2 linked regions of the Homo sapiens genome follow. The protein of the gene in region 1 purifies or fractionates together with the protein of each later gene. This does not show direct contact. Each region holds a gene or a part of one and is shown in the gene's direction. Other genes may lie near its edges.

Evidence for each region.
Region 2: the proteins of PARS2 (region 1) and ALDH16A1 fractionate together in Homo sapiens (co-fractionation; one large-scale study listed by BioGRID). This does not show direct contact.

Annotation. Positions count from the first base shown.
Region 1 is NC_000001.11:54,756,398-54,758,960, reverse strand, and holds the end of PARS2 (probable proline--tRNA ligase, mitochondrial precursor), read left to right. Parts: coding exon 1-1,227; 3' UTR 1,228-2,063; downstream 2,064-2,563. UniProt on the Homo sapiens protein: Mitochondrial aminoacyl-tRNA synthetase that catalyzes the specific attachment of the proline amino acid (aa) to the homologous transfer RNA (tRNA), further participating in protein synthesis.
Region 2 is NC_000019.10:49,463,004-49,467,010, forward strand, and holds part of ALDH16A1 (aldehyde dehydrogenase family 16 member A1), read left to right. Parts: intron 1-850; coding exon 851-946; intron 947-1,123; coding exon 1,124-1,260; intron 1,261-1,413; coding exon 1,414-1,519; intron 1,520-1,628; coding exon 1,629-1,759; intron 1,760-2,734; coding exon 2,735-2,902; intron 2,903-3,078; coding exon 3,079-3,280; intron 3,281-4,007.

The DNA of each region.
Region 1 (2,563 bases):
TGTAAGAGCCAGCGGCTGATGCTGCAGGTGGGCCTGATCTACCCAGCAAGCCCCGGCTGTTACCACCTCCTGCCATATACCGTCCGTGCCATGGAGAAGCTCGTGCGAGTGATAGACCAGGAGATGCAGGCCATCGGGGGCCAGAAAGTCAACATGCCCAGCCTCAGCCCGGCAGAGCTCTGGCAAGCCACCAACCGGTGGGACTTGATGGGCAAAGAGCTGCTAAGACTTAGAGACAGGCATGGCAAGGAATACTGCTTAGGACCAACTCACGAGGAAGCCATTACGGCCTTAATTGCCTCCCAGAAGAAACTGTCCTACAAGCAGCTTCCCTTCCTGCTGTACCAAGTGACAAGGAAGTTTCGGGATGAGCCCAGGCCCCGCTTTGGTCTTCTCCGTGGCCGAGAGTTTTACATGAAGGATATGTACACCTTTGACTCCTCCCCAGAGGCTGCCCAGCAGACCTACAGCCTGGTGTGTGATGCCTACTGCAGCCTGTTCAACAAGCTAGGGCTGCCATTTGTCAAGGTCCAGGCCGATGTGGGCACCATCGGGGGCACAGTGTCTCATGAGTTCCAGCTCCCAGTGGATATTGGAGAGGACCGGCTTGCCATCTGTCCCCGCTGCAGCTTCTCAGCCAACATGGAGACACTAGACTTGTCACAAATGAACTGCCCTGCTTGCCAGGGCCCATTGACTAAAACCAAAGGCATTGAGGTGGGGCACACATTTTACCTGGGTACCAAGTACTCATCCATTTTCAATGCCCAGTTTACCAATGTCTGTGGCAAACCAACCCTGGCTGAAATGGGGTGCTATGGCTTGGGTGTGACACGGATCTTGGCTGCTGCCATTGAAGTCCTCTCTACAGAAGACTGTGTCCGCTGGCCCAGCCTACTGGCCCCTTACCAAGCCTGCCTCATCCCCCCTAAGAAGGGCAGTAAGGAGCAGGCGGCCTCCGAGCTCATAGGGCAGCTGTACGACCACATCACAGAGGCAGTGCCTCAGCTTCACGGGGAGGTGCTCCTGGACGACAGGACCCATCTGACCATCGGAAACAGACTGAAAGATGCCAACAAGTTTGGCTACCCCTTTGTGATAATCGCTGGCAAGAGGGCCCTGGAGGACCCTGCACATTTTGAGGTTTGGTGTCAGAACACTGGTGAGGTGGCCTTCCTCACCAAAGATGGAGTCATGGATTTACTGACCCCAGTGCAGACTGTCTAAATGCCCCCAGCCCACCCCTGCCCCCATTTGCAGCCTTGGTGTTCGTTCTAACACTGCATTTTCCTACACCCCTTTCCTGGACTGCTCTCTCCAGAAACAGCACAGCTCATGGAGGGTGAGATCATGTTAGGGAAATCAATTTTTATCTAGTCATTTGTTCAGATTATTTGTATTTAAAGTCATTAACTTGATCCCTTTCTCCAGACTGGCCATGCCGCCATATACCTTTCCTTTTGTATTCCATTGTGGAAGCTTCTAGGAGGCTGAGAAGCAGGAGATCCAAGCTCCAGTCCTGGGTGTTACCCTGAGGGGGGAAGTCACTTCCCTTCTCTCAGCTGAGTTTTTCACGTGTAAGATGAGAATGGCTGATGGCTGAGAGCCCACCAACCTTCCCCACCCCGTATCAGTTTGACCACGGGCCTTTTGCTACATTCTATCCAGAGAGCAGGCCTGCCAGCCCCTCTCCACTGAGAAGTTGGGCTGAGAGTATGGGGAAAAGAATCAAGAGACCTGACTGCCGCCAACTCACTAGTGACTTAGATACATCCCCTCCCCCTGCTGGGGCCTCAGTTTCCCCATCTGTAACTTGAGAAAATAGAACTAGATCTGTAAAGTCTGGAACTAGATCTGTAACGTCCTTATAGGTGTCACTAGGGGGTTCCATGAGAGGTGTGTGACAGGCAGTCTGATTCCTCTCATTCTCCATAGTCTGTTTCCTGGAAAGTCGATGTAATTAACTGATGGCCCAAAAACTACCTCAAGAGACCTGGCCCTGTTAAGACGGCTTAACCACTGAGATCCCGTTCTATTGATTTAATAAAGTCAAACTATTGGAATGGGCCTTGCACATTAATTTGAAACAATGATAACATCTGCCATTTTAACAGTGCAACAGCTTTCTACTCCTTTTCTTTCCTTTTTGACTGTTCCCACACACCCATCCCTAACATAAAAAATCAGGTGGTTAGGAAAATGTGGTTTAAACCATTTCTTCCCCCAAGTATCGGGGCAGCAGGCTTCAACTGCCACGGTGACCTTATCGTAGGTACAGAGTTGGATCCTAGAGCCAAGATGGGGTGAATATTAAGAGCTGGTCTCTTGTGTCCTTAATGTAGAAGCTGGTTTTAAAGAAAAAAAAAAGCTACTCTCTGCCTGAATTGTATGGAAAGATGGAGCAAGCTTGAACTACCCTAGCAATGCCAACTACTTTCATTGCTCCTGCATCTTAGATAAGGAACATAACCAAGTTTTCCATCCTTGGCCCCCTAGGGTCTCTGCATGTCCATATCTGACAAGAATCTGTGAAGACCAAGCTCAAAGCCAGCATCTCCTAAAA
Region 2 (4,007 bases), on another chromosome or scaffold:
GAGGGAGGAGGGGCTGGGCCTGGACTCCTGGGTCTGAGGGAGGAGGTGCTGGGGCCCGGATTCCTGGGTCTGAGGGAGGAGGGGCTGGGGCCCGGATTCCTGGGTCTGAGGGAGGAGGGGCTGGGGGTCCAGACTCCTGGGTCTGAGGGAGGAGGGGCTGGCGGCCTGGACTCCTGGGTCTGAGGGAGGAGAGGCTGGGGGTCCAGACTCCTGGGTCTGAGGGAGGAGGGGCTGGGGGCCTGGACTCCTGGGTCTGAGGGAGGAGGGGCTGGGCCTGGACTCCTGGGTCTGAGGGAGGAGGTGCTGGGGCCTGGATTCCTGGGTCTGAGGGAGGAGGGGCTGGGGCCTGGACTCCTGGGTCTGAGGGAGGAGGGGCTGGGGGTCCAGATTCCTGGGTCTGAGGGAGGAGGGGCTGGGGGCCTGGACTCCTGGGTCTGAGGGAGGAGAGGCTGGGGGTCCAGACTCCTGGGTCTGAGGGAGGAGGGGCTGGGGGCCTGGACTCCTGGGTCTGAGGGAGGAGGGGCTGGGCCTGGACTCCTGGGTCTGAGGGAGGAGGTGCTGGGGCCTGGATTCCTGGGTCTGAGGGAGGAGGGGCTGGGGCCTGGACTCCTGGGTCTGAGGGAGGAGGGGCTGGGGGTCCAGACTCCTGGGTCTGAGGGAGGAGGGGCTGGGGGCCTGGACTCCTGGGTCTGAGGGAGGAGAGGCTGGGGGTCCAGACTCCTGGGTCTGAGGGAGGAGGGGCTGGGGGCCTGGACTCCTGGGTCTGAGGGAGGAGGGGCTGGGGTCCTGCAGTCCTCGGTCTCAGCAGGAAGGGACCAGAAGTCGACTTCTAGATCATTTCTCTCCCTAGGTGTTCCAGGCTGGTGATGTGCCTTCGGAACGCCCATTCTATCCCCCAACCTTGGTCTCCAACCTGCCCCCAGCCTCCCCATGTGCCCAGGTGGAGGTGAGACCCTTAAGGCTGCAGAGCTCCTACCCACCGCCAGCCAAGGGCAGCAGCTCTGTGCCTGGGGAAGCCCTTGGGGTAACCATGTGACCTGGGCGTGGGGGCTGCTGCCTGCTCTAGGCTCCTTCCCTGGTGGGTGGGCCCTGGAGGGCTGAGCCTCCCGGTCACCCCTTGCAGGTGCCGTGGCCTGTGGTCGTGGCCTCCCCCTTCCGCACAGCCAAGGAGGCACTGTTGGTGGCCAACGGGACGCCCCGCGGGGGCAGCGCCAGTGTGTGGAGCGAGAGGCTGGGGCAGGCGCTGGAGCTGGGCTATGGGTCAGTCTGCGTGGCCCGGGCGCTCACTCCTCTCCTCATTCTTCCATCTTCATCTCCCTTCTCCCTGGGTCGCTCCCCGCGCCTTTAACTCACCCCTCTCCCGGCCTGCCACCGTCTGTTTTCCTCTGTTGGACACCTTCATCTTCCCCACAGGCTCCAGGTGGGCACTGTCTGGATCAACGCCCACGGCCTCAGAGACCCTTCGGTGCCCACAGGCGGCTGCAAGGAGAGTGGGTGTTCCTGGCACGGGGGCCCAGACGTGAGTACATCCCCTCCCCGTCACCAGCCCCCCCGCCGCCCCATGCCCTTGACACTCGCATCCGGCCTCGCGTGCCCCTTGCATCCTCTTGACACCGTCCCTCTCACAGGGGCTGTATGAGTATCTGCGGCCCTCAGGGACCCCTGCCCGGCTGTCCTGCCTCTCCAAGAACCTGAACTATGACACCTTTGGCCTCGCTGTTCCCTCAACCCTGCCGGCTGGGCCTGAAATAGGGCCCAGGTGAGTCGTTGGGGGCCAGTGGTCTGGGAGTGTGAACGGGGAGAGGGGAATTGATGCCTGTTTCCCCGTGGACTGGAGGGCTGGCGCGAGGTCCATCCAAACCATCTCTTAGTCCTGCTGAGTACCACGTTGTGGCCTCACACTTTCCCTACCCCAGGCCTGCCGAGACTCTCAGCTCTGCCCCATGAATGTCTGTACTCTCCCAGAAACTCATGGGTCTAGGAGCTTGGGGTCCCCCAGAGGTTCACTGGAGCAGAAGCTTGGGGTCCCTCAGAGGCTCATGGGAGCAGGAGCTTGGGGTCCCCCAGAGGCTCATGGGAGCAGAAACTTGGGGTCCTCCAGAGGCTCATGGGAGCAGGAGTTTGAGGTCCCCCCAGAGACTCAAGGGAGCAGTTTAGGGTCTACCAGAGGCTCATGGGAGCAGGAGCTTAGGGTCCCCCAGAGGCTCATGGAGCAGGAACTTAGGGTCCTCCAGAGGCTCATGGGAGCAGAAGCTTTGGGTCCTCCGGGGCTCATGGGAACAGGAATTTGGGGTGCCCCACAGGCTTATGAGAGCAGTTTAGGGTCTGCCAGAGGCTCATGGGAGTAGGAGTTTAGGGTCCCCCAGAGGCTCATGGGAGCAGGAGTTTAGGGTACCCAGAGGCTAGTGGGAACAGGGGTTTGGGGTCCCCCAGAGGCTCATGGGAGCAGAAACTTGAGTCATCCAGAGGCTCATGGGAGCAGGAATTTGGGGTTCCCCAGAGGCTCATGGGAGCAGTTTAAGGTCCCCCAGAGGCTCATGGGAGCTGGAGTTTAGGGTCCCCCAGTGAATCATGGGAGCAGGAGTTTTAGGGTCCCCCAGAGGCTCATGGGAACAGGGGTTTGGGGTGCCCCAGAGGCTCACGGGAGCCAAGGCAGTCTTCCCAGTGCGGTAGAGCATAGGGTCTGAGCAGATTGAGGCCCCAGGACTCCTCCTCATGTCCCACCCTACTCCAGCCCAGCACCCCCCTATGGGCTCTTCGTTGGGGGCCGTTTCCAGGCTCCTGGGGCCCGAAGCTCCAGGCCCATCCGGGATTCGTCTGGCAACCTCCATGGCTACGTGGCTGAGGGTGGAGCCAAGGACATCCGAGGTGCTGTGGAGGCCGCTCACCAGGCTTTCCCTGGGTAAGGGGTCACACGGGAAAGCCCAAGGGTCATGGTGTGGCAGAGAGGGGAGCCTGCCCACAGCAATTGGTGGACTGGGAGGCTGGGCCCCCAGGGTAGGGGCTGTGGACAGAGGTGGGGTGTCAGGAGAGCCAAGACCAGGATGCCAACCCCCACTGTGCGCTGTCTGCCCACAGCTGGGCGGGCCAGTCCCCAGGAGCCCGGGCAGCCCTGCTGTGGGCCCTGGCGGCTGCACTGGAGCGCCGGAAGTCTACCCTGGCCTCGAGGCTGGAGAGGCAGGGAGCGGAGCTCAAGGCTGCGGAGGCGGAGGTGGAGCTGAGCGCAAGACGACTTCGGGCGTGGGGGGCCCGGGTGCAGGCCCAAGGCCACACCCTGCAGGTGAAGGGTCTGTGGGCACCTGGGCCAGCTGGGCAGGCGGGGTGGGGCTCAGACCAGAGGCTGTGAGATAACCCAGGCTTGGAATTCGGGCCCAGCCCCACCGCCTTCCACGGCAGGATCATCAGCAAGTGGCTTCACCTCTCCCTACCTCAGTTCCCTCATCTGTACAGTGAGTGGGCACACAACCCGCCTCGTAGAGTAGCGTTCGCCAGATGATGGATAGCGACCCATTCCTGGACCCTAAAATCAATTTAGTGGGCTGTTAGGCGGTTCTCACATTGCTGTAAAGAAACACCTGGGGGCGCAGTGGCTCACGCCTGTAATCCCAGTACTTCGCGAGGCTGAGGCAGGCGGATCACGAGGTCAGGAGATCGAGACCAGCCTGGGCAACACGGTGAAACCTGGTCTCTACTAAAAATACAAAAAATTAGCTGGGTACGGTGGTGGGCACCTATAGTCCCAGCTACTTAGGAGGCTGAGGCAGGAAAATTGCTTGAACCCAGGAGGCAGTGGTTGCAGTGAGCCGAGATCGTGCCACTGCACTCCAGCCTGAGTGACAGAGTGAGACCTTGTGTCACAAAAAAAAACAAAAAACAAAAAATACCTGGCCAGACATGGTGGCTCACGCCTGTAATCCTAGCACTTTGGGAGGCAAAAGTGGGTGGATCGCTTGAGGCCAGGAGTTTGAAACCAGCCTGGGCAACACAGTGAAACCCTGTCTCCACAA